Regions from separate parts of the Homo sapiens genome. Here region 1 is linked to region 2. The links come from fine-mapping of genetic effects on gene expression. Tissue or cell type: whole blood. Region 2 holds a variant in brackets; the other region holds the start of a gene. All regions are shown on one strand. Distances are from middle to middle.

Region 1 (8,089 bases), 200 kb after region 2:
AGGGATAAATGTGGAAGCTACCAGGGGCCTGCCATTCTCGTTCCCTTCTTGGTTTTGGGGATAAAGGTTGGAGGCTCTGGTTTGTATTTTAATCTGGAATCAGTACTCCAATATGCCTTATCCTGGCATAAGAAGTGTTTGAAAATGGTTTATAGAATAGACATCTAGTTTTCTACCATAATCAACCTTGAGAGAACTGAAGACCATCTAAGATTTCTCTCTCCTTTTAGAAATAGAAGTGAGGCTGGGCACAGTGGCTCACATCTGTCATCCCAGTACTTTGGATGACCAAGGTGGGAGGATCACTTACGTTCAGGAGTTCAAGACCAACCTGGGCAGCATAGGAATACCCCCCATATCTACAAAAAATAAAAAAATTTAGCTGCCTATGGTGGTGTGAACCTGTAGTCCCAGCTACTCAGGAGGTTGAGATGAGAGGATGGGGAGGCCGAGGTTGCAGTGGAACTGGAATCGCGCCATTGCACTCCAGTCTAGGTGACAGAGCTAGACCCTTTGTCTAAAAATATATAAATATATTTATATATACCCGAGTGAATACATGTAGAGATCTACCCTTGTTGGCTTGTTGACAACGCACACATATTTGCAAGTGTCCATTGTATGTGCTGGAGGAAATACTATGTATACTTTGAGAGGATTTGTTGAGCCAAAAAACAGGCCCCTGCCTAATGCTGTTCCTGGCTCAAGAAAGTATCACCTTAAGAATTTTACAGAAATATTGTTGAAGCCTATGGCTAGAGGAGGAAAATGAGAAGGAAACAGAAAAGACACAAGGCCTGGTGAAACTAACTAGAGATTTGCTAGGGGAGTTCTGGGATAAGCCCCCAAAACACATGTGTGTGCACTTTCACTTCAAGAGCCCTCATCCCTTTCTTCTTTACCAACACGTCTATTTTTTTCTTTAAAAATGATATTTTACATTCTGAAAACACCTTAAAATTAAGGTGCAAAGAATCTCATGAGGTATTTATGCCAATTTTTATATTATTTTTTCGGACGATTTATTGCAAAGTAGCTCTAACAACAAACTGACGTCTTAAAGAGATTCCTTCAAAGGCACAAACTTCAGGGGGAATGCAGTGTCCATTAGCTTCATCATTTTCAGCTTGGGATATGCATATCGAAGCATAACTAGGGAAATGAGGCAGTATGTCTTCCTGAGTCTCGAGCCTCACAGCTGGAAGGCTGTGACCATCTGGGCTCTGATCCTAATTAGTGCGTGGGGGTAGGAGTGGTGCTCAGCCGGTCCCTGGCCCACCAGTCTCCTCGCTCTAGCGGTGGGTCAAGGGTGATATTCCTCCCGGAATAGCGGAGCTAAACTGTAACGCTGAATAAAAGAAAAAAGAAAAAAAAAAAAAAGAAAAAAGAGCTTCTTGGGGTGGGGGTGGGGAAGCTACAATACACTGTTTGTTAGGGTTAATCCCGGTTTTGACAACTGCCAGAGCTGTTTAAAAAAGGAAATGATTAAATAAACAAGACAAGCCACTAAATCAAATTTGCAAACGAACCTCTCTACTGACTCACTCAAGGGTTTCTGAACCTCAAGAAAAGATTTTTGAGTGAGGAGAAGTAAAGGTACCTTCCGTGTCATTACGTAAGCATCTCCTGCTTTGAGGATTACAGGAATTACCACCCGCAGCCAGCCGGGAGCTCCGCTGCCTATTGCACCTGCCGGACCTAGGCTCTCTCATCTCAGCCCGAGGCTGGGCAGCCAAAGCCGCCTGCGAGTATTCGGGAACTGTCCGCGGACGCGTCTCCAAACCGTGCCGAGATACCAGCGAGAAAGAGGTTTTCTCAGACGGACGTTCACTAAGTAGAGAAAATACGCTATAGTTTCAAGTTGGGAAACTTTTCCTTATAACTGCATTACCCACTGTGAGCTGCCTGAAAACCGCTAGCTTCTTTTCAAGGGATTGCGACGACTCGTGTCCACAACTGTAGGAACCCGACGAACTCAGAGGGAGGATATACAGACTAAAGCACGAGTAGAATCGGTTTGCGCTATGTGACTTTGGGTCACATTTAAACTGAAAATGCCAGTGGCCGCGCAGTCGGGCTACTTTTCCCAGCAGCACCATATCCACAGCCAGTTGTCCCTTTTCGGGAGACGTTTTCTGGAAAAAATAGGTACCTGAACTCTAGATTCAAAGCGTCTTTCTGAATCTCTCCCCGGTCCCCGCCAAGCCGAGCTCAGTCATCTGGCTCCCCTCTTCCCCATCCCCGCTGCCAGAGGTCGTCGCCGTCTGTGGTCCCGAAACCCGAGAGTGGCTCCTACGAAGCCTTTCAGAGGTGGTGCAGGGGGAGGGGAGAGGATGCTAGTTTAGCCAAGTTAATAGTTTCTTCTATGGGATACGTTTTTGGGGAGTTCTGGGGCAGAAGGTAGCCTTGCTACCCCCAGTGACGATTGCGAGCCTGACCAAGGCCGGGCCGCTGCTGTTAGTGCCACATCATCCTAAGCATAACTAGGAAGGGACGCCGGAGATCAGAGACCGCCAAGACTCGAGAAAGCAAACCAGCCCCGCCAGGCGCGCAGCCGCTGCTGAAGCCTTCCCAGATGCGAACCTCCCACCCCCACTTCCCCGGCTTTTTCATCCCTTCCAGGGCCCAACGGCAACAAGAAGTCTGGTCCCGTACTTTGGCAGAGTGCGCTCCGAAACCCTGGTGAAGAAAGAGAAGCCTTGAGGCGCAGTCCGTGTTGCCCACTCTGGGTTCGAACACGCAGCTAAGACAGCCACCTGTTCTACAAAGCTGGAGTTTGTGCGGGCGCGGGCTGCGGCAGGAAGGACCCCATCGTCCCCTCCCTCAGTACGGTTCGGGACCGCCAAAGGTGCACGTCACCCCAAATCTAAGTGCGCACACACCTGCGCACTCACCCGGAGGCGCGCGGCGACTCACTGCCGGATCTCCTAGCTTCAGCCCCGACCACGCGCTAGCTACTGGGGCCCACCCCGCGACCTGCCCTTCCGGGAGGATGGCGCCAATTACCTGCAGTTAAGATGCAAAGAGCGAAGAGAGTCTTGTAGACCATGGTAGCCTGGTATTTGGTGCCCAGCCCGGGGCGGGCGGCAAGGAGTTTGCGGACTGACAGAGCGCACTGGGCGCTGGTAGCGACTCCTCTGCCGGGTGGGCTGCGGTGGGAGCCGGGAGGCGCGAACAGCTCCAGTGGAGGGCGCGAGGCAAACGAGGCGAACGCAGCGCAGCTCCGTCAGCTGCGTGCCCTCCGGTGCTCCGCGCTCTTCTGCTCCATCCCAGCCGCCCGAGCCCGGGGCCGCCTCCGCCTCCGCCGCCGCCGCCGCGCCTGCCGCTGCCAAACCCCTCCCACCCGGGCCCCGCGGCGATGACTGGGCCACCCCCTGGCCTTCCTTCTCTCAGCCCTCAGGTCCCGAGAGCCCCGGCCCAGAGCGGCCTCTGCTGGACAGTCAAGACACGAGACCCTGGGTTCAGCAAATGTTTGCAGCGCCTTGCACTGTGCTGGGAACTAGGGATGCAAAGAAATGTGAGCACATCTCTGCCCTTAGGAATCTAGCTCAGCTTTTCCTACATGAGCTTACAGCCTTTAAAAAGGTGACCTTATGCCATTTTAGGAGTTCCCTCGGAGAACCGGCACATGTTCCAAGAATGAGGACCTTCTTCATTTGTCAAAACACTTCTGCGTGTACATCATTAAACCCTCATCCACATTAAACCCGGCTGAGCTTCCTGGGGCCCGAACCAGGATGTCTGCCGCTGCATTCAGCTTCTTACTAGAAGAAAATACTGTCGGGGGGATAACTAAGCCAGACACCCTACTAGGCGTTGTTTCATGAATCCTTCTAAGAATTATTATTATTCCATTTTACAGGTGAGAAAATGAAGGCACAGAGAAGACAATGTTCTCAAGGTCGCATAACTGGTAAGAATAGTTTGTGCACTAGGCCCATAATAAAGGCTGACGTTTCCTGAGTGATTGCTATGTGCTAGGCACTGGACAACGTGCTGTTCAGGAATCAACCAAGTCATTTAGTTCTCACAACAATCCTTGGAGATTATATCCTCGTTTTCAGGGGAGAAAGTAGAAGCACAGAGAAGTTTAACTTGCCCGAGTTCACACAACTCGCAAGTAATGATAAGATGCCTGCCCAGGCACCCCGCTCAGCCTCTGTACTCTACTCCCTCTCAAGAGCCCAAAGCTTCTCCAAAGCCTACAGATTAGAACTGACCTTTCATTCAGTTCCCTCCCTGCTCTTGCTACACTTTAGGCTTGCTTAATTCTCACACTTCGATCAAAGCAGATGCCAGGTTCTCTCCCAATTCTGTTATTAATGAACCTATTGGTCCCCTAGTCACTAGAGCTGGGGCACTGCAGGAGTTAACAAGCCTTTGTAAAGAAATGATTTGCGTGGAAGGCAGCTTTCTTTTTTCTGTAATATCTTCTTCATATGCCATGGGCTCTGTTCTCACTTCTTTCTCACATACCAGAAGCTGACTCTAGGAGTCCTGAGCACCTTATCTATGGTCAATTCCTCTGCCTGACTCTATCACACTACCACTTGTAGATTTTGCTCACACTTCCACAACCAGATTAAATTTGGATCATATTTTTTTCTCTTTGTTTTGGTAAATCTAGTAATTTCTGTTGGAATGAGAAACAAAAAATACTCAGACCAAGTGCCCATCCCCTCTCCATCCTCCCTGGCCAGATAAACTGCAAATTCAATTTGTTCAGCATGTTCTCTGAATGCTTTTGACTTCAAGGCCCTTCCGGTTTCTAGGGTAATCTATGTGATTAGGAACAATTTCTGCATCTGGGTTTTGGTTGTCATGGATGCAGGGACCACACACAGATGGAGTTATGCAGCGACATTCTATCAGGCATTAGCCCCTTTAAATAGGGCAGGTTAAGTAAGTGACTCTATGGCAGAAATATAGGTTTTTGAAGACCACTTCACAGAAAAAATTTATTCAATTGAAATTCAGCAAAACTTGAAGGAGTCTTTCTGGAGTGCGAAGCATGTGCAACTCTAACCTTGATATCTAAGATAATGGTTTGGTACTCAAAGAATCATGACCCCTACACACTAATCAGTGAAAATTTCCAAAACTTTTCTATTGTACGCAGGATAGAGTTGAAATAATTTCTTTGATTAAAATAGTTCATTTTAATTGCTGATTAAAAATTTTAATTTATTAATTAATTTAGTCAGAGCATATTTAATCACTTATTTTACGCCAGCCCTTATGCTAGGCAATGGAAATACAATGGTTGTAATAGCCAGGGTAGTGTAGGTTATGCTGCTGTAACAAACCAGCCCAAAGTCTCCCAAGCTTAAGCGATAATGGTTTATTTTTTGCTCATCAAAGTCTGCTATGGATCCAGGTTACTCCTCAGAGTAGCTGTCCTCAGGATCAGTGTTGTACCGCCATATCGAAACCTGCTTTTGTTACAGTAGGTAGCTAGATAGGCATGAGTGGGGCAGCAGAGGGCTCCCCCCACACCCCACCAGGAAAGTCAGGTAACCATCATGTGATGGCCAGGCAGTTATTAACTGTCTCTCTAAAATAATAATTGGTTACAGCTGGCACGAGGGACTGACCATCTCCCCATAAATAGGGAACACATGAAACTGGTAATCAGCAGCTTCCAATAAGATCTCAGGAGGTGGGTGACTGAACTCAAGCATGTGCATTAAGATGCAAAATGGTGGAGTTTAACTGGTATATGACCTTCTGGGGGCATTAAAGCAATGCAAGACGCCAGAAGTAGACCAGCATGTAAAACCCTAAGTGCAAGGTCAAATGGGGCACTTGACGTCCAAGATGCCCTCTTAGGCCTCTTCCAACTGTGCTTTCCTTTCTTGCTGCTCTAAAGCTTTTTAATTAACTTCCACTCTTGCTCTGAAACTTGCCTCAGTCTCTTATTCTGCCTTATGCCCCTCAATTATATTCTTCCTTCCGAGGCAAGAATTGAGGTTGCTGCAGTCTCTGCCGGTGACTCAAATAACTTCCACCTCTAACAGTTTCACATCCACCTCTAACAGTTTCACATCCACTGAGTTAGGGAAAGAGAGAAGTGGAGAATTAAGTATTTAAATCTTCCACCTAAAAGTGACAATTCTGTTCATATTTTATGGGCTAAGGCAAGTCAATGGCCATGCCCAACTTCAAGAAAGCAAGAAAGCATGTTATTTTTGCGTGCTCAGATAGAGACGAGAACTCTATAGCAGGGAACATTGTGATATGTGCCACAGGGGCTAATTGTCCCTGCACCAGGAAACTTATTTTCTAGTAGTGGGGAGTTAAACATTGAATGAATAATCACAAAGACATATGCAATAACATTATATTAAATGCTACAATAATAATAATGATGAAAATTTATTAATTGTTTCAAGCATTTTATGTACAGTCATGTGTTTACATTTCTACACTCTAACTTTGTGAGATAGATACTGTAGAAGACCAGAATGTGCCACTTCAGAATATGCCTTTTCAGTATAAGCATTTGTTTGAGAAACAGCAGCTATAGGAGCAACTCTGAGAACAGAGTGGAATTACCTTTTTGTAGGGTGAATTTAAATCTATAAAGGAAATTTTCATTTGTAAAAATGTCTTCCTCTGAATTCTAGGAAGAAAAGGATGGCACTAAATTACTGGAAACTCTTATCAATGGAGAGGGCTCTGACTTAAATACGCATAACAAACTTTACCTTTGTTTGCCATGCTTTACCTGGTCACTTCCTCATAACTGCACCCCTACCCCCATACTCCTCTTTCTTTGTTTCAGCTGAAGATGATATTTAAGTTTGAATTCAAAGTCACCTCTTTGAAAATTACTAATTCCCTGACTATCTCCTGTACATATATATGAAATATACATGTTAATAACCTCGTGGGGTTTTTGTTGTTGTTAATCTGTCTTTTGTTATAGGGGATCCCAGCTTAGAACTCATAAGGGGTAGAGAGAAAAATTATCTTTTCTCCCCCCAAATACTATTATTATCCAAATGTTACAAAGTAAGAAACTGAGAAATACTTATACAGAATAAAACTTTGAAGGAAACTAAGGGATTCAATGAGATATAATAGCAGGGGAACTAGTACTCCTCAGTGGGGTCAAGGATGGAATTTGCATGTAACCCTTAGTTATGACTTACAGCAAAAGCCATTTTTTTTTTAGTAGAATTCTTAGTTCTTTTATAATACTCCACTGGGATAAAATCTCACATAAATCTACCTTTTACTGACTTTGACTCTTTTTTGATCATTGTTAAAATGAATTTTTAGTGTTGTGGACTTTTAACATTTTACCAAAAAAATTGCTCTTGGCTGACATAGATTTTTACATCCTGAATATATTATATTTTATAATTTTAGATAATACATTTTAGGTAATATAGAAGTATTGTTTCTGGATTCTTTATATCATGAGATGGTTTCATCTGGACTCTTGGCTTAAGTGAGAGAATAACTTGGCTGAGAGAGCTGCAGTGGTTAGAGGTTGGGTCCTAATCCCCTCTGCCATCTACTAACTGAGTGATTCTAATTAATTACTTGGCACCTCTATTCCTTTGTTTCTGTATCAGTCTGCTAGGGCTGCCATAACAGAACATCACCAACTAGGTGGTTTAAACAACATAAATGTATTTTTTCCATGTTATGGAAGCTGGATGTCTAAGGCCAAGGTGATAACAGTGTTCAGGCTCTTGACACCATTGCAAGCAGGAATTCAAGAATGAGTCAGAAAATAGTGACAGTAGGAGATTTATTGCAAAGTGAAAAGCATATACTCAAGAAAGGGGATTGTGGGGGTACTTAAGACAGAGTTGTTTGATGGAGTTTGGAGTTTCTGTCTTTATGGGCTTCTTTAACCAAGGGGTGGAATATTCATTAAAATTCCTGGAAAAATTTAGAGATTTCTCAGAACTGTGGTGCCACCTATTTTTTCACACCAAATATGGGTGTTCTCAGGACTGTCATGGCACTGGTGGGTATGTAATTGATAATGTTAACAATAATATAACGAGGTCCTAGGAGAAATCTAGGTGAAATCCAGTGCCATGTTGGATCCAGTTGGTCTTAGCCAGCTGGG
Region 2 (8,108 bases):
GTGGGGACACTGAATCAGAGTTTAAATAATTTTTATAGGTACATAGCTATAGAGTGGAAGAGCCAGGATTCTAACACAAGTCTGTTTTCCCCAGAGCCCCTGTTCTTAACATCTGTGATAGGGGTTCACAAAATTCTAGTGTGCATAGGTAGCACACGAGGATCATGTATAGAAACATGGATTTTCAGGCTTAGATATTATGAATCAGCAGGTCTTGGGTAATTTACTTTAAAATACTTCAGCATAGATTATGTAATTTGAACATGTTTGTGTGTGTTTGTTTTAATCTACACCTTTACTGTGGTTAGTTGCTTTAATCAGAAATATCCACTCCAGAGAAGTTAGCTAACATTTAATAAAAAGCCATGACCCAGAGAAATTCAATTATATTTATCTCCAGTTGACATAAAAAGTTTTGGTAATTTCACTAGTGAATGTTAGAACTAGGGATTTCTTGCCGAAATCAGTGGTTTTCATTTTTTGTAGATTTTCTGGAAATACTAGAGAGAGTCTTGGTGTCTTTGCAGAATACAGACCAGCTGGCTCGGTGATCTGTATCCTTAGGAATGGCACCCAGAGCTTTGAGTCTTCAAGGGCCTATGTTCATCTGATGATTTGGAGACTTCTTGGTCTCCTGTCTCTAACTAGATAGCAGAATCTTGCAGCTGGAGTGTGGCTTCCTTCCCATCCAATGAGATGTTCATGGAAGAGTCCATTAGAGCACTTAGAGGAATGGACACCTATAACTCCAAGGGGTTTTGACAAACTGGTGGTATGAGTGTTGAATGTTTGCTAAGAAATGCTAAGGTGTGTACCAAGATTCAGTCTGAGATTTGGTTTTAGGGGGGTTGTGGAAAGGAAACCCATAACCTTCACCTACAACTGTTGGAGGAGCCTGATATTTATTTATTTATTTATTTATCTATTTATTTATTTATTTATTTATTTTGTTTTTGATATTTATTTTTAAAACCTTGAAAATTGTGCATACCCAAGTTGGATCAGGTCAGGACTGAATTATAAGGAGCAGCTTAAGTGACTCTGATTTGAGACATGCTCTATTAACTTATATCTTCTTCTCTGTTTAAATGGAGAATGAATGAACATTTGGCAGTGGGTTGTGGGAGTGTTTCAAGCACTGGATAAGTAGCCAGATCTTCCTCCAAAAAAAAAAAAAAAAGTCATTTCTAATCTTGAGATTCAATCAATTTTAAAAAGAAATTTTATAAAAATCTTTTGATCTGGTTAATAAAAAGGAATAAAGTTTTGTGATCCTTAGGATATGCCTAAAGCCTCACAACCAATAAGATTTTCTGTGAGTGCTTCTCACTGAACCACTGCAAAGAGCCTCCATCTGTGAGTCAAGATCTTTGCAAAGTAATTTCACAAGCAAACACAATTGAGTCATACACTTTAAAAAAGAAAAAAAGCTATATTAAAGTTGTTTCAGGAAGCTACATGTATCTGTTGGAAAATAAGGGGTGTCATTAAAATGCTGTGCTTAGAGTTCTATTATTATTGTTTATACCTAAAATTATGTTAAGAATGGCACATTAAAGATTTCTTTTTTTTTTACAAATAAGCCAGGCACAGAATATTTTTTCAACACTTTAAGGATTTTCTAGAAGAAAATCGTTGCCTAACATTATTTTTGCAAAATTTCTAATGATGAAAAAACACTGGAATGTTTCTGGGAATAAATCTTATAGCTATAAATAAACATCAATTCTTAAAATATTTAAGTATATTCTTCAATACTTAGTAAGTGCAGTGAAAATAATGTGTCTTTCACATAATGGGAACAATATAAATGTTTGCTTATTGACAAACTTTTTGATTGCTATAGACCAAGTGAGGGAAGTATTAAATGTAATGAAAAGTTAAATAGGCACATAGGAATGAGATTACAAAAATAGTGTGTGAAGCTTACGAATCTTGAGAAATTAATACGGGCAGCGAAGAAACGATTTTAGCACAGAAGACAAAATCATTAAGGCAACATCTGTTCATTCCTAGATGAAAAATGACAATTGCTGAATACTGAGAGGGTCCTTGTTTTGCCTGGAAATTTGTATTGAAGCAATAAGTGGAACTAATAAGTTGGTAGTGGGGATTCTTTAAAATTTTAAAGCGACACCTTATTTTTCACAAGATTTGGTAGGTTCCATCTAATCTATCAAGCATTTCAGCACTGTGCAGCACCGAATAGGTCATGCCTATTCTTATCTGAGAGAGTGCAAATTTTATATGGCCACTGAGTTATCCAAAGAGAATTAATTATATTGTATGTAGTTTCAGTAGATGTAATGATAATATATTTGAGTTATTTGGCTATGGCAATCAATACATGAGATCTAGTTCCATCTTCACTGATTAACCTACCCCCACAACCCTGTCTCCTTTTCTCAAATACTGCTGATGATAGTGACTTTACATTGTTTTGTTACTGTTTGTTTGATGTGGCTTTCTTTAATAATATGCACTCCTTTTAAAATGAAGCACCTTGAAAAATACCCTTTTCAGGAAAAAGGTTGCTAATTTGATATAATAGACTACCCAGTTTGTTGATATTTTAACACCGATTATACTTCTGATGTTAAATAAATTACTCAATTTAGTTTATCTTGTGTATAAAAGCAGGCTGGTTTATTTGGTGACATAAAAAATAAACAACAATTTGACTGATTGTAATTTTCATTTCTTAATAAGGTGCTTGGGTTTTTCCCTTCTAAAATTGTAAGTTATATTAAAGGACTTCCTGTTTTGCACACTGCCATTCCCCAGAGGGTAGGGCATTAAGAACAAGAATAGTTTGACAATGAAAAGTGTCTGGGGAATGAGGGGGTAATTTGGGTGTATAATGTCAAGAAAATGGTAGAAATGCTGGTTAGCTGTCTTGATTTACAGTAAACAAAATACATTGTTTCATTACGCTATTTTATAGAACATTACTCGTTTATTAGTAGTCACAACCTTAATGATGAGGTAGTATTTGTTTCAAGCTTTTCTTCTTTCAAATTGTTTCTTTGTTTATGCCGTTGCATGTTATGTTTAATGTAAGCTAGGTTTGTGTCTTTTAAAATGGTATTTATAGAGACTATTTAAGTATATTACCCACTCAGCCATGGTAGCTTGACTATTCAGAGGGCCCCTCTGTTTCAAGGGCTGTTGTGAATCAAGAGCAGCTCTGATATCGCTCAGCTGTAGAACTCCTCAGGATGCTGGGGATGAACTTGTTCAACTCCATTTCACAGACGTTGAAATTGAGGATGAAAGAGGTTGAGTGACTTGGATCATGCTTGTTATGGGAAGGGCCTGAACTAGAACCTGGTCTTGTCAGTCTCAATCCAATGCTTTTTTTTTAATTAAAGTTTTTATTTTGAGATTGTTGCATATGCAGTTGTAAGAAATAATACAGAGGCCCCTTGCATCTTTTACTCAGTTTCCCCAAGTGGCAACATCTTGAAAAACTATAGTACAATATAGTACAACCAAGATATTGACATTGATATTGTCAGGTTACAGAACATTTCCACCATTAGGATGCTTCAGGCCATTCTTTTACAGCAATACTCACTTTCAACCTACCCAATTCACTTTTTCACCATTGGCAACCACTCTAATCTGTTCTCCATTTCTATAATTTTGTCATTTTATGTTGTACAAATGGAATCATACAGTATGTAACCTTTTAGATTGGCTTTTTAAACTCTGCATAATCTCTGGAGATTTGTTCTTTTTTGGGAAAGGGTCTCACTTTGTTGCTCAGGCTGGAGTGCAGTGGTGTGATCATAGCTCACTGCATCTTCCAACTCCTGGGCTTAAATGATCCTCCCACCTCCGGCTCCTGAGTAGGTGGAATGACAGGTGCATGTCAAGATGCCTGAGTAGTCTGTAAATTTTTTTTTTT[G/TG]TATAGAGAGGGTCTCACTGTGTTGCCCAGGCTGGTCTCAAACTCCTGGTTTCAAGCTGTCCTCCTGCCTTGGCTTCCCAAAGTGCTGGGATTACAGGCATGAGCCACTGTTTCTGGCTTTTACTTTGGAAATGTGTCACTGGATTATTGTGTGTATCAACAGTTTATTCCTTTTTGTTACTGGGTAGTATAGATATATCACACTAATGCTCTTTTTGTGGCATATTTCTGTTCTAATCTTGGGAAATCTTGGCCATTTCTTTCTTAACTTGGCCATTTCTTAACTTTCAAGTTAAGGAGCATAATTATGAAGGAATAATTCAATTTTGACATTTCTCATTTTGTGTCTGGAGAGACTTGGAAGAGGTGATTATAAAGATAGCAGAAATCTATGCAGTATCAAGGGTGTTTTGGTGATGCCACAGCCTCCTTTGTTTTGTGGTGAGAGTGAGATGGACTTTAGAGAGGGCCTCCAGTATGTTTTCTGAGGGATATGATTAGAAGAGGTCTCTGCTAAATACTGTGTTCATGTGAGGCAGCCTTCCCGGGGAACCAATGTCTCAGCTATTATACAGGGCAAAATGATTTCAGATCTCATTCTAGTGTCACAAAGGGGATTTGCAGGTGCCAGTTGCCATTACTGAAAGTGGAGTGCAGCCAGAAGAGAGGAATTAGCACCTGTCCACCCTGTAACCGTGCCCTGGGTTTTTAATGACCCAAAATAGTTGAGGCTTGACACTCTTAAACCCTAAAGATAGACTCATTAGAAAGACAAAATGCTCCAAGGTGAAGAAAGTATTTTAATTCTTACACTAAATTTTAGTTTGCTAAAACTAGTGGGCTGCGTGGCACTTACCCTGTGGCCACTTGCAGGTCTACTCAGTGTCAAGAAAACTTCCACATTTTCAGGACAGTCAGTTAGGAGATGGGAAGTCACAAAGCCATACCTCCCACTGCATTTATGTGTTCTAATCATTTGAAGATGACTTGAAGAACCTATGATGAAAGGAGAAAGATGTGTCCTAGGGGTTGGAATTGAAGTATTGGGAGGGTGGAGAGCAGTCATTTGAATAACTATTAGATAATAAGACAACGACTTTGGACAAATGAAACAAGTAGCAATATAACATAGTTTGCAAAATCTGGTAAACAACCTTTAAGAAAGTGGGAGTTGAACAATGAGAACACATGGACACAGGGAGGGTAACAACCTACACCGGGGCCTGTTGCAGGTGAGGGGCGATGGGAGGGACAGCATTAGGAGAAATACCTAATGTAGATGATGGGTTGATGGGTGCAGCGAACCACCATGCCACATGTGTATCTATGTAACAAACCTGCACATTCTGCACATGTGCCCCAGAACTTAAAGTATATATATATATATATATATATATATATATATATATACATATATCCCTTAATGTAAGGCGAGGTATGCATGTAGTATGAACCCTAGAATTCTTGAGAGGGAGAAAATGAAAATGTGGGGTTATGGAAAAGGGGCTTGTACAGGAGCATGATGGACTCTTGAGGCTAAGTCAGGTTAATCTCAGGCATTAGAAGGGACTAGAAGGAGCTAGAAGGAACACAGTGATTCATCTAGGTTTTTATTTTATTATTATTATTATTTTTCCTTTTCATTCCTTGTAATTTTTTTTTGTTTGTTAATTTTCTTTTTTTTTTTTAATTATACTTTAAGTTTTAGGGTACATGTGCACATTGTGCAGGTTAGTTACATATGTATACATGTGCCATGCTGGTGCGCTGCACCCACTAACTCGTCATCTAGCATTAGGTATATCTCCCAATGCTATCCCTCCCCCCTCCCCTCACCCCACCACAGTCCCCAGAGTGTGATATTCCCCTTCCTGTGTCCATGTGATTTCATTGTTCAATTCCCACCTATGAGTGAGAATATGCAGTGTTTGGTTTTTTGTTCTTGTGATAGTTTACTGAGAATGATGATTTCCAATTTCATCCATGTCCCTACAAAGGACATGAACTCATCATTTTTTATGGCTGCATAGTATTCCATGGTGTATATGTGCCACATTTTCTTAATCCAGTCTATCATTGTTGGACATTTGGGTTGGTTCCAAGTCTTTGCTATTGTGATTAATGCCGCAATAAACATACGTGTGCATGTGTCTTTATAGCAGCATGATTTATAGTCCTTTGGGTATATACCCAGTAATGGGATGGCTGGGTCAAATGGTATTTCTAGTTCTAGATCCCTGAGGAATCGCCACACTGACTTCCACAATGGTTGAACTAGTTTACAGTCCCACCAACAGTGTCAAAGTGTTCCTATTTCTCCACATCCTCTCCAGCACCTGTTGTTTCCTGACTTTTTAATGATTGCCATTCTAACTGGTGTGAGATGGTATCTCATTGTGGTTTTGATTTGCATTTCTCTGATGGCCAGTGATGATGAGCATTTTTTCATGTGTCTGTTGGCTGCATAAATGTCTTCTTTTGAGAAGTGTCTGTTCATATCCTTCACCCACTTTTTGATGGGGTTGTTTGTTTTTTTCTTGTAAATTTGTTTGAGTTCATTGTAGATTCTGGATATTAGCCCTTTGTCAGATGAGTAGGTTGCGAAAATTTTCTCCCATTTTGTAGGTTGCCTGTTCACTCTGATGGTAGTTTCTTTTGCTGTGCAGAAGCTCTTTAGTTTAATTAGATCCCATTTGTCAATTTTGTCTTTTATTGCCATTGCTTTTGGTGTTTTGGACATGAAGTCCTTGCCCATGCCTATGTCCTGAATGGTAATGCCTAGGTTTTCTTCTAGGGTTTTTATGGTTTTAGGTCTAACGTTTAAGTCTTTAATCCATCTTGAATTGATTTTTGTATAAGGTGTAAGGAAGGGATCCAGTTTCAGCTTTCTACATATGGCTAGCCAGTTTTGCCAGCACCATTTATTAAATAGGGAATCCTTTCCCCATTGCTTGTTTTTGTCAGGTTTGTCAAAGATCAGATAGTTGTAGATATGCGGCATTATTTCTGAGGGCTCTGTTCTGTTCCATTGATCTATATCTCTGTTTTGGTACCAGTACCACGCTGTTTTGGTTACTGTAGCCTTGTAGTATAGTTTGAAGTCAGGTAGTGTGATGCCTCCAGCTTTGTTCTTTTGGCTTAGGATTGCCTTGGCGATGTGGGCTCTTTTTTGGTTCCATATGAACTTTAAAGTAGTTTTTTCCAATTCTGTGAAGAAAGTCATTGATAGCTTGATGGGGATGGCATTGAATCTGTAAATTACCTTGGGCAGTATGGCCATTTTCACGATATTGATTCTTCCTACCCATGAGCATGGAATGTTCTTCCATTTGTTTGTATCCTCTTTTATTTCCTTGAGAAGTGGTTTGTAGTTCTCCTTGAAGAGGTCCTTCACATCCCTTGTAAATTGGATTCCTAGGTATTTTATTCTCTTTGAAGCAATTGTGAATGGGAGTTCACTCATGTTTTAGCTCTCTGTTTGTCTGTTGTTGGTGTATAAGAATGCTTGTGATTTTTGTACATTGATTTTGTATCCTGAGACTTTCCTGAAGTTGCTTATCAGCTTAAGGAGATTTTGGGCTGAGACAATGGGGTTTTCTAGATATACAATCATGTCGTCTGCAAACAGGGACAATTTGACTTCCTCTTTTCCTAATTGAATACCCTTTATTTCCTTCTCCTGCCTAATTGCCCTGGCCAGAACTTCCAACACTATGTTGAATAGGAGTGGTGAGAGAGGGCATCCCTGTCTTGTGCCAGTTTTCAAAGGGAATGCTTCCAGTTTTTGCCCATTCAGTATGATATTGGCTGTGGGTTTGTCATAGATAACTCTTATTATTTTGAAATACATCCCATCAATACCTAATTTATTGAGAGTTTTTAGCATGAAGGGTTGTTGAATTCTGTCAAAGGCCTTTTCTGCATCTATTGAGATAATCATGTGGTTTTTGTCTTTGGCTCTGTTTATATGCTGGATTATATTTATTGATTTGCGTATATTGAACCAGCCTTGCATCCCAGGGATGAAGCCCACTTGATCATGGTGGATAAGCTTTTTGATGTGCTGCTGGATTCGTTTTGCCAGTATTTTATTGAGGATTTTTGCATCAATGTTCATCAAGGATATTGGTCTAAAATTCTCTTTTTTGGTTGTGTCTCTGCCCGGCTTTGGTATCAGAATGATGCTGGCCTCATAAAA

What was found. PIP is the estimated chance that this variant, and not a neighbour inherited with it, causes the effect.
Region 1: it holds the start of PARM1, and the variant in region 2 is fine-mapped to the expression of PARM1 in whole blood (INTERVAL, PIP above 0.99).

What each region holds. Positions count from the first base shown.
Region 1 is chr4:74,928,288-74,936,376 of GRCh38, reverse strand. It overlaps PARM1 (prostate androgen-regulated mucin-like protein 1), which reads right to left and starts at 3,261. Exons shown (of 4, transcript NM_015393.4): 1 at 3,007-3,261. The coding sequence starts at 3,049. RefSeq lists an enhancer at 2,328-2,377 and silencers at 2,488-2,537, 3,118-3,427.
Region 2 is chr4:75,130,317-75,138,424 of GRCh38, reverse strand. No RefSeq gene overlaps it. Among named protein-coding and RNA genes, the nearest start is that of LINC02562, 50 kb to the right of the region's middle. The variant G/TG (reference allele first, on the strand shown) is at 3,911.